Regions from separate parts of the Homo sapiens genome. Here region 2 is linked to region 1. The links come from fine-mapping of genetic effects on gene expression. Tissue or cell type: whole blood. Region 1 holds a variant in brackets; the other region holds the start of a gene. All regions are shown on one strand. Distances are from middle to middle.

What was found. PIP is the estimated chance that this variant, and not a neighbour inherited with it, causes the effect.
Region 2: ADAMTSL4 starts here. The variant in region 1 is fine-mapped to the expression of ADAMTSL4 in whole blood (TOPMed, PIP above 0.99).

The regions. Positions count from the first base shown.
Region 1 is chr1:150,570,836-150,578,925 of GRCh38, forward strand. It overlaps MCL1 (MCL1 apoptosis regulator, BCL2 family member), which reads right to left. Exons shown (of 3, transcript NM_021960.5): 1 at 8,008-8,090; 2 at 7,409-7,656; 3 at 3,723-6,656. The coding sequence ends at 6,540. It overlaps ADAMTSL4-AS1 (ADAMTSL4 antisense RNA 1), which reads right to left and starts at 3,717. Exons shown (of 4, transcript NR_104133.1): 1 at 3,289-3,717; 2 at 2,824-2,986. RefSeq lists enhancers at 7,033-8,090, 7,193-7,911, 7,912-8,090. The variant G/A (reference allele first, on the strand shown) is at 4,516.
Region 2 is chr1:150,546,382-150,554,482 of GRCh38, forward strand. ADAMTSL4 (ADAMTS like 4) reads left to right here and starts at 3,027. Exons shown (of 19, transcript NM_019032.6): 1 at 3,027-3,118; 2 at 3,441-3,514; 3 at 5,824-5,927; 4 at 6,162-6,219; 5 at 6,517-6,872; 6 at 7,045-7,741; 7 at 7,984-8,086. The coding sequence starts at 5,908. It overlaps LOC124904417, which reads left to right and starts at 3,909. Exons shown (of 1, transcript XM_047438226.1): 1 at 3,909-4,969. The coding sequence starts at 3,909. The coding sequence ends at 4,679. It overlaps ADAMTSL4-AS2 (ADAMTSL4 antisense RNA 2), which reads right to left. Exons shown (of 6, transcript NR_187269.1): 6 at 2,183-2,369. MIR4257 (microRNA 4257) reads left to right here and starts at 5,548; the gene lies at 5,548-5,633. RefSeq lists silencers at 2,212-2,506, 2,438-2,587, 2,758-2,897 and enhancers at 4,233-4,922, 5,412-6,281.

The sequences.
Region 1 (8,090 bases):
GGGGCCCAATCTCAGCTCACTGCAACCTCGGCCTCCCGGGTTTAAGCAATTCTTCTGCCTCAGCCTCCCAAGTAGCTGGGACTACAGGAGTCCACCACCACACCTGGCTAATTTTTATATTTTTACTAGAGACGGAGCTTCACCATATTGGCCAGGCGGGCCTTGAACTCCTGACATTGTGATCCGCCCGCCTTGGCCTCCCAAAGTGCTGGGATTACAGGCGTGAGCCACCGCACCCGGCCTCTTTTTTTGAGTTTCTTAAGGGGAAGAATGATCTCTTTATAATTCCATTATCTAACAGTTCATGATACATAATAAGCAGTCTACTGTCATGTAATGGAAAAATGAAGACACTCTCAACATCTGGCTGCCTAGAGCTCCTGCTAAATAGACAAGCCTGGGCAATATAGCAAGACCCCATCTCTATGAACAAAACAAAACAAAACACAAGGCATGGTGAGGTACCTGTAGTACCAGCTACTTTGGAGGTTGAGGTGGGAGTATTGCTTGAGCACAGGAGTTCAAGGTTGCAGTGAACCGTGATAGTCCCACTGCACTGCAGCCTGGGCAATAGAGTGAGACCCCACCTCTTAAAAAAAAAAAAATCCTAACTTACCTCAATGTTGAAGATTTCTCATTTCCCAATGGAAAATAACTATTATTCTATGCAGGTCAAGAAGGGAACTGCAAATTAGAAACCAAGTATAGTGTGGGAACAAAAGCTTGCTACGTATATCCTTTTTCTACTTCCCAAGAATTATTAGTAAAGGACACCAAATTTTCGGAGGTGTTTTTTTTTGAGATGGAGTCTCGCTCTGTCGCCAGGCTGGAGTGCAGTGGTGTGATTTTGGCTCACTGCAATCTGGGACTACAGGCGCGTGACCCCATACCCAGCTAATTTTTGTATTTTTAGTAGAGACGGGGTTTCACCATGTTGGCCAAGCTGGTCTCAAATTCCTGACTTCGGGTGATCTGCCCGCCTTGGGCTCCCAAAGTGCTGGGATTACAGGCATAAGCCACCGCCCCTGGCCTTTTTTTTTTTTTTTTTGAGAGGAAGTCTCGCTCTGTCACCCAGACTGGAGTGCAGTGGCATGATCTTGGCTCACTGCAACCTCCACCTCCTGGGTTCAAGCAATTCTCCTGCCTCAGCCTCCTGAATAGCTGGGACTACTAGTGCCCGCCACCAGTAGTGGCGTTTAACCGTGTTGGCCAGGCTGGTCTCAAACTTCTGTCCTCAAGTGATCAGCCCGCCTTGGCCTCCCAAAGTGCTGGGATTACAGGCGTGAGCCACCTCACTAGAGAGGTATTTATTTTGTTTGAGACAGAGTCTCACACTGTCACCTGGGCTTAAGTGCAGTGGCACGATCTCGGCTCACTGCAACCTCCACCTCCGGGGTTCCTCCCAGGTTCACGTGGTTCTCCTGCCTCAGCCTCCCAAGTAGCTGGGATTACAGGCGCCCGCCACCATGCCCAGTTAATTTTTTTTATTTTTAGTAGAGATGGGGTTTCACTGTATTGGCCAGACTGGCCTCAAACTCCTGACCTCATGATCCCTCCACCTTGGCCTCCCAAAGTGCTGGGATTACAGGTGTGAGTCACCGTGCCTTTTTTTTTTTTTTTTTTTTGAGACAGCGTCTGGCTCTGTCGCCCAGGCCCCGGAGTGCAATGGCATGATCTCAGCTCACTGCAACCTCCGCCTCCCGGGTTCGAGCGATTCTCCTGCCTCAGCCTCCCAAAGTGCTGGGATTACAGGCCTGAGCCACAGCGCCCGACCCGGAGAGCTGTTTCTTAATCTGCCTGGAGGAAAATCCCCAGCCCCCAACTTTCCACATACTTCACATAGATAACACTGTAACAACTTTGAAACTAAGAGGGAGAGAATTAAGTTTTCAAATTTGAAATTGAGAAGCCTTTGAAGAGTGGCAGCGTTCTAGAAAGTTCCATGATTGAACAAGTGAAGCAAAAAACTAGGATAGACTCAACTGACCATCTGAACTCCAGGAATTAATAGCCAGTGCTTTGGGCATCTGGCTGGAGCCATGGTACGCACCAGTTGTACAAGTTATTTCATTTTAATTTTGTAAAAAAAAAAAAAAAAATCCTTCGGCTGTCACAACTGTTTTAAATAAAAATTTTGTGAAAAAACAGTATGAAGACGTTGCTCTAGATACAGAACAGGAACTGAGAAAGTCTGGTTGTGTCAAATAAAGCAAAGTGTTGATAATTCTGACTACTGATTAAGGTTACCCAGTTACTATTAAATCCAAGCTTTTAAGGTGCTGAGCAAAGGAACACTGTACCAGAAACGGCTTCACATCATAGCACGTCAATGGGAGCAATAGCACTAACTTAACTCAGGCCAAGACTTGGGCTTGGGTCCTCTGTGGCTGCTACTCTCCTACCACACCTTTGCTTGGGAGTGCACTTACACAGCTTTCTTTGTAATGATACAAAAAGTTGCTGCCTTTTGGTAGTTAGGCTCCAGAAAGGGGCTTCCAAACCAAAATGCACTTTTAAATAGAAATGCAACTGACTGCAGGGAGGCACAGAATCCTGATTGCCTGATTAGCATATGGTGCTCAGGGCTTAAAACCAAGTATGCAAACCTCACATTTGCACATTTCCATGGTGATTCAGCTCACTTTCAAGGTAGCTGAAAATAAAAGCAGGATAGGGGTTTTTGAAATTGACTGGCTTCTTTTTACCTCCTTTTGGAAAGCAGAAGGGGAAAAGCACTGCTGCCAAGAACTTCATCAAAACTCTTTAACTTTAGGTATTATTTAGGTGTTATGATAGAGTAACTGCTGTACAGTACCCTCTTACCTCAAGATCAAGGCTGGGCGCAGTGGCTCAGGTCTGTAATCGCAGCACTTCGGCTGAGGCGAGTGGATCACTGAGGTCAGGACTTCAAGACCAGCCTGACCAACACGGCAAAACCCCGTCTCTACCAAAAATAGAAAAATTAGCCGGGCATGGTGGCGGGCACCTGTAATCCCAGCTACTCGGGAGGCTGAGGTTGCAGTGAGCCGAGATTGCCCCACTGCACTCTAGCCTGGGCAAAAGAGTGAGACTGTGCCTCAAAACAAAACAAAACAAAACATACCAACACCTGGTGATTCAAAAAAATCAAGACAGAGGCTGGGTGCGATGGCTCACGCCTGTAATCCTGGCACTCTGGGAGGCAGAGGTGGGCAGATCACCTGAGGTCGGGAGTTCAAGACCAGCCTGACCAACACGGAGAAACCCCATCTCTACTAAAAATACAAAATTATCTGGGTGTGGTGGCGCATGCCTGTATTCCCAGCTACTCAGGAGGCTGAGGCAGGAGAATCATTTGAACCTGGGAGGCGGAGGTTGCGGTGAGCGGAGATCGTGCCATTGCACTCCAGCCTGGACAACAAGAGCAAAACTCCATCTCAAAAAAAAAATAATAAATAAATAAATCAAGACAGAAATTTTGATTTTAAAGAGGTTTTTGATTTTACTTGGAGGTTTAAGAACTCCTCTAAGTACAGCAGTAATATATTTAATTAAAAACCCAACACCTCTAATTAGAATTGAAGAAAGGAACTGTCCTTTGCTCTAAGGCAAATCAACTTTGTGAGGCTTTTGCTTTGAATTCACCTGTACATATTTGCTCAGCTGACTTCTCTAAAAGGTTTGCCTAAGAGAGGGAAGGAAAAAGAGGCGTCGATGAGAAAAGACCCATATCACACCCTGTATTTGAATAAAAGATTTATTTTTTTTTCTCAGGAAAAACAGAAAGTTAGGGAAACACACTACATTTGACAACCAACATTAATTTGTAGTTGGTCCTAACCCTTCCTGGCACAGCTATCAAAAGTACAGCTGTTTAACCAGAACCAAGGTGTTCACCCCCCACAGAATGTACATGAAACACTAGAGGACTGCATGTTTTTCCCTGAGAGAAGCGTAAGACAAACAGAAGTCAAAAAGTAGTCACTGGGAGCGCCATCCTTCTAAGCAAATCCTCCCTTTCCCTTTTGGAGGATTTGCCCGAACTACGTAGCCAGTCAGCACTTAGACCACCTGCCTCCTCCTCCCCCTATAAACCCACCACTCCCCTCCTCCTTTCCCAAACCACTTGGGGTGTCCTAAGCCCTCACTGCCCCAAGCCCAAAATATCAACTAAGATCCTTGTCTGTATTTCCACAGTCATACCTAATGAATTGGGAAGTGGGGCCCCTAAAAACCAATTCACATCTATGCACTTGTTTCCACTGGATTTGGCAGACAGGCTTTTTTAGTTACCGTAACCAGATCTTAAGATTAATTAAAAACTACATAAAGTGCTTTTAGGTCCTTAGAGATACATGATATAAATAAGCGGCTTATGATCAAGAACGATAAATACATAGGTAAAAATAGCTCTAGCAAAGATGACCTTATGGCTCTGAGATGGGCAGGCAGGGCAGTTCTTCCCCATTACATTCTTAGTCATCTTATTCATACCTATTTTTAAATGGAGTCCACAGACTAAAGGTCATGTTCCGA[G/A]ACTGAAGCTTTCAAATGACCCTAGTTCCAATATAGACACTTTCTTCAGTTTATCAGTAGCTTTTAAACTCTGAGGTTTAACACAGCTCACCTCTTTCTGTAAATTTAAGTGAGCATACTCCTATACAAAGGAAACTTTAGAGAAAGCCTCATAAAATGTTCTTTCCTCTGAAAATTCCTGAGGGGACTTTTGACACATTGCCCCCAAAGACAGGATAAAACAATAGTTGAAAAGATACCAGTCCAAGGAAAAGGGACTTCCTCCCACCTCTCAATGACTGTTAGTGTCACAGCACCCATGGTATTACCACCTGCTAACAGGATCAAGTTCGTGAAAGATGAAAGGTCTGTGGACTCTTGGTGGGGAGGGAGGGTCACTCAGGTTTCCAGCAGGGGTTTCACAGTGCCAAAATCTAAAAGGGCTAGAAAGAGTTCAGGGATGGCAGGGGAAAGCTGTAGGAATTGATATAAATATCTGTAGAGGGAGCAGAACAATCAGCAATTTCAAGGAAGGACAGGAAATAAAAGGTTAAGTCTGATAGAACAAACATCAAGACTGAAATCCAAAGATGCCAATGCAAAAACTTGCAACAAGGTTTGGGAATCATTAATAGAAACAAAACAGTAAGTATTTGCTTTATTGACATACTAGGCTTAGACCTGTGTGTGTAACAAGCAAGCCTAATAATAGCACCATGGTTAGACTAGCCTGCTTTTCCAAGCCATCATTTTATAATTTATTAAGCAAACAAGGGATCAAATGTCTCTCCATCCACCTGATGTGATCTTTTTATATGCACACAGCTAATGAGTTCCATTCAGCTGAAAATCTTTTAGTAAAAGCTTTAAAGATGAGCCCATGAATTCACTTTAAATTTCACCAGTTAAATTAGGTCAAATGGAAGGAACTCAAATGAGTATTGCCCAATCAGAGCCCATTATTTGTAAGTCATCAGTAACCTTAAAACTCCACTTAGACCTAATTATTGAAAACTTGCATATAATGAAGTGAAAGAATTTCCATTCATCAACCTCTCAATCCCAGGTTTTCAAAGAAAAACCTAAGGAATACTTACCAAAATCAGATAAGAAAATTTAAACCTGCATAGTTATCAGATTTGTTCCACTACAACCAGTCTGCATACAGTTACACATCAATTCGTTCTGTATACACTCTAGAACTGAACAGAACAAAGTTTAGCATAGAAAAGCTGTAAGAAACAGGTTCCTAATTACGGAAGTTGCAAAGTTCAAAAGGGTATGAAAAAAACTAATGTAAATTCGATACTTCCTTCGTTTCAAAGAAATAGACTTTCTGTAAAAATATATACAATTTTTACAAATACATTTACAAGCTGTCTTAAGAATTGAGGATATCCATATTCATAACTAATTACTGAGCCTTCCGTCAAGTATTATTGGTGATAAACTAGGCTAATAAAGTAAGAATCATGGAAACCAAGCCAAAGTATAACAGGTATAAAAGTCCTGAACACTTGGACTTTCTAAGAAGTATACTGGGAAAGCTAATTAGAGAGAGGAAAAGCTTCCCTTGTACAGTACTGAGGCTTACAGTCATAGTTCTATTACTTGTAACTTTTACACAGGTCACTGGCATTCTTAGTGCTTCTCTTAACACTACAGTAAATTAATGAATTCGGCGGGTAATCAATTCTATGACTTGCCTGGCTACTGGCCACTTTCCTGTTCTCAACAAGGAAATTAAGTCTTTCCACCCTACCATCTTCACTAAATCTAAAAGTCCTCCTCCATAGCTTCCCAAACAAAGTTTGTTTGTTGCTGAAACTGAACTTTGCTTCTTTCAGACAGTGACTCTTCAATCAATGGGGAGCACTCTTCCCATGTATTTATTCTTGTTAGCCATAATCCTCTTGCCACTTGCTTTTCTGGCTAGGTTGCTAGGGTGCAACTCTAGGAAGTTACAGCTTGGAGTCCAACTGCATAAACTGGTTTTGGTGGTGGTGGTGGTTGGTTAAAAGTCAACTATTGCACTTACAGTAAGGCTATCTTATTAGATATGCCAAACCAGCTCCTACTCCAGCAACACCTGCAAAAGCCAGCAGCACATTCCTGATGCCACCTTCTAGGTCCTCTACATGGAAGAACTCCACAAACCCATCCTAGAAAACAAAAAAGAAAAGCACATTTTCAAGTATGGGTTTCTGCTCTCTTACAACACTACTATCCAGAGAGAAGGTAAATTAAAATATCTAAGGTTTCCCCCTAAAGCAATAGTAAACCAATTATTATTCACCCCGGGGCAAAAAAAGAAAATAAGTTCTTCAGTTTCTTAAGCGGGGACCCATGATAATTAAACTTCATTTTACAGTACTATCTTGGTCTTATTAGGATTTATCCTAACAAAAGGACTTCCAGAGTTCCCATGAGGTAAAAGACGAAAACCCTTATTCTCAAATCTCCACCACCTAATATTTCAGTAACGCCTCAATTGCGCAGATCAGTTTTTCTCAACGTAGTTAAGTACATCCTGCATCAGATCTGGGTTTGTTTAAAACGCAGGCTCCACCCCATATCTTCTCCATTAAAACAGGCACCGCCTTAGGAATTATTTCAGCTATCCTCCCCTGGTGACTTATTTTTTCATGGTTTGAATCCACTGAAGAGTATTCAACTGAATTGGAACAAAAAATTGCCTAGAGAAAACCAAGATTTTTGATACAATTCAAGACCGCCATACCACTATCTCTAAGGATCCACTACTTAAATCAACATCAAATAAACAATGGTCCTTTAGTTAGAGCCTGCAAACAGCCGTGCGTCATAAAAACCTTTAGATATCCCCACCTCTCTAAAAAAAATCCTTCATTCTACTTCCACTCCAAGGCCCCTTTCATCCTTAAGGCAAACTTACCCAGCCTCTTTGTTTAACTAGCCAGTCCCGTTTTGTCCTTACGAGAACGTCTGTGATACTTTCTGCTAATGGTTCGATGCAGCTTTCTTGGTTTATGGTCTTCAAGTGTTTAGCCACAAAGGCACCAAAAGAAATGAGAGTCACAATCCTGCCCCAGTTTGTTACGCCGTCGCTGAAAACATGGATCATCACTCGAGACAACGATTTCACATCGTCTTCGTTTTTGATGTCCAGTTTCCGAAGCATGCCTGAGAAAGAAAAGCATGCAGGTCCTCACGGCCTCCTTTGTCTAAACCGGCGCAAGATTCGCCTGCCCACCCGCGGCGGGAAAATCGCTACTGGGATTTACAGAACTCAGGTTGACCCCACTTGAAATTGACATCCCACCCTTTCCGGTCTTTGAACAAGAGCTGCCATTTCCAAAAGAATCAAGATGGGCGGAAACAATGACTCATGGCCAGAATATTCTGGCTTCAGGAATAGGATGAGACACGTTTCAACACTGACTCGTTTCGGTTTCCAACCCACCCTTGGCGGGTGAGTCCGGGGAGAGATGGAAAAAAGGGAGTGAGGCCTTGGCGATTAATGAACCCCCTTACCTTGGAAGGCCGTCTCGTGGTTGCGCTGCACGCCATCCCCAACCCGTCGTAAGGTCTCCAGCGCCTTCCTGCTGGTGGCCCCA
Region 2 (8,101 bases), 24 kb before region 1:
CGCTCTGTCACCTAAGCTGGAGTGCAGTGGCATGATCTCAGCTCAATGCAACCTCCGCCTGCCAGGTTCAAGCAATTCTCCCTGTCTCAGCCTCCTGAGTAGCTGGGATTACAAACGCCCACCACCACACCCGGCTAATTTTTGTATTTTTAGTAGAGATGGGGTTTCGCCATGTTGGCTAGGCTGGTCTTGAACTCCTGACCTCAGATGATCCGCCCGCCTTGGCCTCCGAAGGTGCTGGGATTGCAGGCATGAGCCACCGCGCCCGGCCCAATTCCTACATTTTGAAAGCATTTTACGTTTTCATATCCATCATCTTCTTAGAGATAACATCTCCTTCAGCTGAGCCCAGTATTAACCTTCGCATGACCCCATTACCTGCCGTGTCTGTGCCTGATCAGACCCAACTCCTTGAGGCCAGAGACTTCTTGCTGCTTCTTCAACACCAAGTGCAAAAGGCGCCCAAAAAATGACAGGTGGGGAACCAAAGACCTCTGATATTTTGTGAGGATGCAGGACAATGTTGTTAGAGCTTCTATTTTTGTGTTTTAGTTTTTCAAGAGAAATTTTAAAATATCCAGGTTTTAAAATACGTATTGACAAGTTATTTAAAAAAAAAAAATGTGCCTTTAGGTTGGGCCCAGTGGCTCACACATGTAATCCCGGCATTTTAGGAGCCCAAGGAAGGAGGATTTCTTGAGCCCAGGAGTTTGAAACTAGCCTGTCTTAAAAACAAAAAACAAACAAACAAAAACCTTTAAAACACTGAGTAGACCCAACAAAATACAACGCGTCAGTAAATAGAAAGTAAAAATATAGGCCGGGAGCAGTGGCTCATGTCTGTAATCCCAGCACTTTGGGAGGCTGAGGCGGACGGATCATGAGGTCAGGAGTTCGAGACCAGCCTGGCCAACATGGTGAAACCCCATCTCTACTAAAGATACAAAAAATTAGCCAGGCGTGGTGGCTCGTGCCTGCAATCCCACCTACTCAGGAGGCTGAGGCAGGAGAATGGCTTGAACCCAGGAGGCAGAGGTTGCAGTGAGCTGAGATGGCGCCATTGCACTCCAGCCTGGGTGACAGGACAAGACTCCTTCTCAAAAAAAAAAAAGTAAAATATAAAAATAGCAGTGACCATTTATTGTCTACTCTATGCCAGCCATTTTACATATTTTATTTATTTATGTGTTTATTTTTTGAGACGAGGTCTCTCTCTGTCGCAGGGGCTGGAGTGCAGTGGCACGATCATAGTTCACTGCAGCCTCAAACTCCTGGGCTCAAGCAATCCTCCCCGCTCAGCCTCCTGAGTAGCTAGGACTACAGGCTTTCACCACCATGCCCAGCTTACATATATTATTTATAATAAATAATAGCCAGGCGCGGTGGCTCACGCCTATAATCCCAGAACTTTGGGAGGCCGAGGCAGGAGGATCACTTGAGGTCGGGAGTTGGAGGCTAGCCTGACTAACATGGAGAAATCCCGTCTCTACTAAAAAATATAAAATAAGCCAGGCATGGTGGCGCATGCCTCTAATCCCAGCTACTTGGGAGGCTGAGGCAGGAGAATCACTTGAACCTGGGAGGCGGAGGTTGCAGTGAGCCGAGATCGCGCCACTGCACTCCAGCCTGGGCAACAAGAGTGAAACTCCATCTCAAAAAAAAAAAGAAAAAAAAAAGATAAAACTAATAGATGGATTGCTCTTGTGGTTAAAAAAATTCACAAAAATAACATTACATAGCTGGGTGCGGTGGCTCACGCCTGTAATCCCAGCACTTTGGGAGGCCGAGGCGGACGGATCACGAGGTCAGGAGATCGAGACCATTCTGGCTAACACGATGAAACCCCGTCTCTACTAAAAATACAAAAAATTAGCCGGGCGTGGTGGCAGACGCCTGTAGTCCCAGCTACTCAGGAGGCTAGGGCAGGAGAATGGCGTGAACCTGGGAGGCGGAGCTTGCAGTGAGCCAAGATAGCACCACTGCACTCCAGCCTGGACGACAGAGTGAGACTCCGTCTCAAAAAAAATAAATAAATAATAATATAATAATAATAAACATAACGCAGAGTAAAAAGCAAAAGCCTTTTTCAGTCCTCCCCCAACCCTGCATCCCTCCCCAGATGTCACCAATACTACTGAGTTTGGGGTGCATTCTTCCATGTATAAATGCATAAAGAGACATATCCAAGCCCATCATATATATTAGATTAGTCCCATTTTGCAGATGAGCAAACTGCACCACACAGGGGTGGAAGTATTCGTCGAAGACCACATAGCTGGCAAGAGCTGGAGCTGAGGTTCAAATCCAGATCAGTCTGACTCAGAAGTCAGCACGCTGTCCTTTCGCTGAGTCCCGAGTGTAAAACCTTACTGAGGAAAAAAACCGAAGCTCATAGAAGTCCCAGCAATCTGAACCACCACTGCCCAACACGGGAGAGGCAGGAGTGACTGAGTTTGCAGGGGAGGCTGCGTGGAGGGGAGAGCCTGGACCCACGCGGATCGGGGGCCGCGGGTACCTCCGTCCAGGGCGCTTCCCTCCCGGACCAGCGGCTCTCCCAGGCCGCCTCGCTCCAGGCGCCCCTGGAGGCTGCCCCGCCTGTGCCGCGCCGCGCCGCGCCGTGTTCGCACCGCTCACCCGAGCGGCTCGGAGGCCCGGGTTGCTTAAGTCCCTAGTCTCAGCCGGGCACGAGGACAGCGCCCGGGAGCGACTGCAGCCTCTGACCCCGGCTGGGCCAGCCCGGGCTGCTTAAGTCCCTAGTCTCGGCCGGGCACGAGGACAGCGCCCGGGAGCGACTGCAGCCTCCGACCCCGGCTGGGCCAGCCCGGGCTTCAGCTCACGCAGCCGTCGGGGGGCGCCCGGCGCGCAGCCCGGGGTGGGTGGTCCTGGCGAGTGGGGCTGCGAGGCAGACCGGCCCCACCCCGGGGCCGCCGAGGGGCGCGGGCTGGGGCGCGTGGCGGGCGGGGCTGGGCGGGGGCGGGCGCGAGGGCGGAGTTGCGGCCGAGGCGGCCGTGACCGGAGCGCGGCTCAGGGGCCCCAGTGGCCGCCGCGGAGCGAGGTTGCCTGGAGAGAGCGCCTGGGCGCAGAAGGGTTAACGGGCCACCGGGGGCTCGCAGAGCAGGTAGAGACCTCCCCGGGACCCCGGCCCCGGCCGCCCCTCTCCCGGGTCCCGTTAGACCGCCCGCCCCGCGCGCCCGCGTCGTCCCCTCTCCCTGCGCTGTGCGGTCGCGACCCCGCCACGACCCCGGACCCAGCTCCGGTGGCCTCGGACAATCTTCCAGCCCCTGGGGTCGAATTCCTGGGGAGGGAGTCTGATCCCGTGGAACTCTGGCCCCATCACCCGGGCGGGGAGTGAACCAAAATTCCTCCTAAGTCACATAGTAAAGTTGGAAAACAGACCCATGACCTCCCCGCGCGGCCGGTGCCTCCTGCCCTCTCTCTAGGAGGGTGCTCTCGGACGGTGTGTCCCCCACTGCACTCCTGAACTTGGAGGACAGGGTCGCCGCGAGGGACGCAGGTGGGTGCCCTTGATCCAGCTCAGCCCGATGGCAGAAGAGGTTGACAAAAAAGAAAGACACCTGTTGGGGTGGCCTGCCAGACCCAGGAGTGGAGGGCTCTGAGGGCCCGGGAATTCGGACTCAGGACAGGGATTCTCCATGGCTAGGCCCAGAAACACAGGGTCCAACCACTCTCCAGCAGGGAGACCTGGGGGTGAAGGGGTGAGCCCTGCGCAGGTCTCTGTTCCTTGGTCTTCACTGGGCAGTGTGGAGAGGTGTGGCCAGGAGGAGCCCGCGTTTGTCCAGACCAGGGTCTACTCTGGCACCAGAGTGACCACCTCTGACCTCTCCTTTCCTCGTCCTGGGCCGGGAACGACACCAAATGAGGGACATGGAAAGGGGTGAGAAGCATAAATGTGCGTGTGTTTCTGCAGAGGAGGGGGCATGGGCCCCTGCCGGGCTGCGCAGGGGAGGGTGGGGTGGGACTTTTCCAGAGAGGGAGCCAGGCCTGGCCCGGGCCCCGGGAGCTCACGTCACCCCCACCCCTCACTTCTCCAGGGAACTGCCAAAGCCAAACCCAGCTCGGGATGGGATTATGTGTACTGGGTAGACCCGTGGAGAGGGGCTGCGAGAAGAGATCTCGGTGGCAGAGAGAAGCAGAGGCAGAGAGGGCATGAAGAGGGGTCGGCATCAGAGAAGGGGCAGGCAGTGACTATCACCCCATTTCTTCTTCCCTCAGCTGGAGTAACAAGAGTCAGGCAGAGCCTGAAGACTTGGGTGGAACATGGGCCCTTCTCTGGAGATCCTGGCCTCCCCCGTTCAGTCAGGGTGGAGTTGCTGACCTTAGTGGCCGGCCCAGCCAGGGGAAGGAGTGGCCATCGGCAACCCCCACCCCAACCCCAATCCCTGAGGCGCCCGCTCTGGCTCAGCCACTCTGACCCCTCCCTCAAATTCCGAACCCTAGGTCTCAGGGAGGGCAGTGGGGCTGAGTGTCTGCCCCCAGGCACATTCCTACCCTTCTCTTGGTCATTTTCTGCCCCAGAGCTGGCCCACCTCAGCAATGCGAGGGCTCCCTGGATTCCTCTCCCGGGTGCCTTTCAGATCCAACAGAAACAGATTTTTTTTTTCCTGGAAAGCAGAACTAAGAGTGGGATGAGGAGCAGGGGTGGGAAGGACTCAAAGTGAGAAGAAGGGGGCAAAGAGAGTCAGGCTTGGTGGCTGGGGTGGCTTCCAAGCCTCACTTCTCCAGTGTTCAAAGCTGAACTTCAGATGGACTTCCCGGCTCTTCAGAATGAGAGGCCTGTGGCTGGGGCATGAGGCAGCCCCGGCTGCACCTCTCCTTCCCGCTTCCCCAGCTGGTAGAGACGCACAGGAAACAAGCCCTCACTGAACCAACTCCAGATGCTGGCACCCAGAGTGGGTGTTACATTGCCGGCTTCTTCTCTAGAGATTAAACCGTCAACCCATTTAGCTTATCCCTTGGCCAAAAAGTGTATGAGATGTGCCTGGATGTTCCCTAAAGAGCTTATCTAAGAAGGGAAGAGAAAGCCGGGAGGCAAGTAGGACAGAGAGATGACTGGGGAAGGTCTTGTGTCTGGAAGACCCAAGGAAGGGGCTTCTGGTGGGTCCTCAGAGAGAGTGTCTGGCGCATCCTCAGTGGAGCCTTCCTCCTCTACTTTCTAGGCACCTCTGGGAGGGCAGGAGTGGGAGCAGATGACAACCATTTTAGAAGGAGCCCTCTGGCTGGGTGCGGTGGCTCACACCTGTCATCCCAGCACTTTGGGAGGCCAAGGCAGGAGAAGCGCTTGAGGCCTGGAGTTCAAGACCAGCCTGTGCAATTTAGCTGGATCCCATCTCCACCAAAAAATACCAAAATTAGCTGGGTGTGGTGGTGCACGCATGTAGTCCCACCTACTCAGGAGGCTGAGGAAGGAGAGCCTGTGAGTTTGAGGCTGCAATGAGCTTTGGTGGCACCACTGCCCTCCAGCCTGGATGACAGAGTGAGATCTCCATCTCAAAAAAAAAAAAAAAGCCTTTTGTGTGTGCCTGAGCCGGCTTAGAAACAGTCCCTAGGTAGGATTTGGGGAGGAGCTAAGAAGCCCCTACAGGGCCCAGAGGTGGGGACTGAGCCTTAGTTGGAGGGCTGAGGTCAGCCCCTGACCATGTAGCCTCTACAGATGGACAAGGCAGTGATCCTCCCTGCTCCCACCCTGAGGATCCTAAAGGGATGGACCAGTTTCACCCCCTCCTCCATATTCTCTGAGCTGTCCTCCCAGCCCCAAGCTCTCTGGACACTGGAGAGGTAACCACCAGGCTTCTGTCCCTGCAGAGAGCACCCTCCACGCCCAGATGCCTGCGTAGTTTTTGTGACCAGTCCGCTCCTGCCTCCCCCTGGGGCAGTAGAGGGGGAGCGATGGAGAACTGGACTGGCAGGTGAGAGAAGGGGCCACGGGTTGGGGGGGAGGAAAAGGGGAGGTGCTGGGATGGCTCTGTGTCTGGAAGTGAGGGAAAGGGGACCACTGGGAGGGGCAGGGGAAGTGATGAGTAACTTCTGCTTTCTGAGAAGTTGGTAGTCAGGATATGGGAGCCGGCTGGGGGCGGAGGGCAGTGTTGCAACACCCCCTCTGGCTCCAGTCTGACGTCCCTCCCCTGGCCTTTGGTTTGCAGGCCCTGGCTGTATCTGCTGCTGCTTCTGTCCCTCCCTCAGCTCTGCTTGGATCAGGAGGTGAGTTCTGGACAAGTGAGCAGCTGCAGCCTGCCTGCCACCCTTTCATCTCCCCCTAGGCTCCCACCCCATCTCTCCAGGCCACGCCTCCATTCCCCACAGCCCACCCACCTCCCCTGCCAACTCCCCAGTTCCTTGCCTCATAACACCAAGAGGCCGAGGTGTAGTTCTCCCTCTGCTGCTGAATGTGACCTTGGACTGGTAGCGACTCCGTGAGCCTCAGTGTTGGTCTACATGGACACTCTGGACAGTTCCCTCTAATCCTTCCAATTCTGTCTGACCTTTTTCTCTATATAGGTGTTGTCCGGACACTCTCTTCAGACACCTACAGAGGAGGGCCAGGGCCCCGAAGGTGTCTGGGGACCTTGGGTCCAGTGGGCCTCTTGCTCCCAGCCCTGCGGGGTGGGGGTGCAGCGCAGGAGCCGGACATGTCAGCTCCCTACAGTGCAGCTCCACCCGAGTCTGCCCCTCCCTCCCCGGCCCCCAAGACATCCAGAAGCCCTCCTCCCCCGGGGCCAGGGTCCCAGACCCCAGACTTCTCCAGAAACCCTCCCCTTGTACAGGACACAGTCTCGGGGAAGGGGTGGCCCACTTCGAGGTCCCGCTTCCCACCTAGGGAGAGAGGAGACCCAGGAGATTCGAGCGGCCAGGAGGTGAGAGGCCTGGGTGGAAGAGGTGGGCCTTGGGCAAGGTGGGGGCTTAGCATGAAGGAAAGGGGAGCACGGGTGGCTTCAGAGGGCTTGTCTTTGGTGCCAGGAAGTAAACTGGGGAAACAGGGTCAGAGGTGGTCAGAGCTGTGCCCCCACATCTGAAACACCTTCTCAGGTCCCGGCTTCGAGACCCCATCAAGCCAGGAATGTTCGGTTATGGGAGAGTGCCCTTTGCATTGCCACTGCACCGGAACCGCAGGCACCCTCGGAGCCCACCCAGATCTGAGCTGTCCCTGATCTCTTCTAGAGGGGAAGAGGCTATTCCGTCCCCTACTCCAAGAGCAGAGCCATTCTCCGCAAACGGCAGCCCCCAAACTGAGCTCCCTCCCACAGAACTGTCTGTCCACACCCCATCCCCCCAAGCAGAACCTCTAAGCCCTGAAACTGCTCAGACAGAGGTGGCCCCCAGAACCAGGCCTGCCCCCCTACGGCATCACCCCAGAGCCCAGGCCTCTGGCACAGAGCCCCCCTCACCCACGCACTCCTTAGGAGAAGGTGGCTTCTTCCGTGCATCCCCTCAGCCACGAAGGCCAAGTTCCCAGGGTTGGGCCAGTCCCCAGGTAGCAGGGAGACGCCCTGATCCTTTTCCTTCGGTCCCTCGGGGCCGAGGCCAGCAGGGCCAAGGGCCTTGGGGAACGGGGGGGACTCCTCACGGGCCCCGCCTGGAGCCTGACCCTCAGCACCCGGGCGCCTGGCTGCCCCTGCTGAGCAACGGCCCCCATGCCAGCTCCCTCTGGAGCCTCTTTGCTCCCAGTAGCCCTATTCCAAGATGTTCTGGGGAGAGTGAACAGCTAAGAGCCTGCAGCCAAGCGGTGAGTCTCCTCGGGCCTCCCCTCCCAACCCCGACCTCCAGTGTGGCTTCCCTGCCCTGAAGCTGGGTCTTCAGCTTCCGCTTGGCACCTGAGGGAGAAGGGCCTTGGCATCTGACCACCTCAGGGCAGGGGTCTTGGAGCTCTTCCGCTGACCTGAGCCTCCCACCTGCTCCCCAGGTTCAGCCCTGCCCCTACCCTCATTTTGCTCCCCAGCTCTGACTCCTTTGTACCCCTCACCGCAGCCCTGCCCCCCTGAGCAGCCAGACCCCCGGGCCCTGCAGTGCGCAGCCTTTAACTCCCAGGAATTCATGGGCCAGCTGTATCAGTGGGAGCCCTTCACTGAAGGTGAGGTTTCTTGCT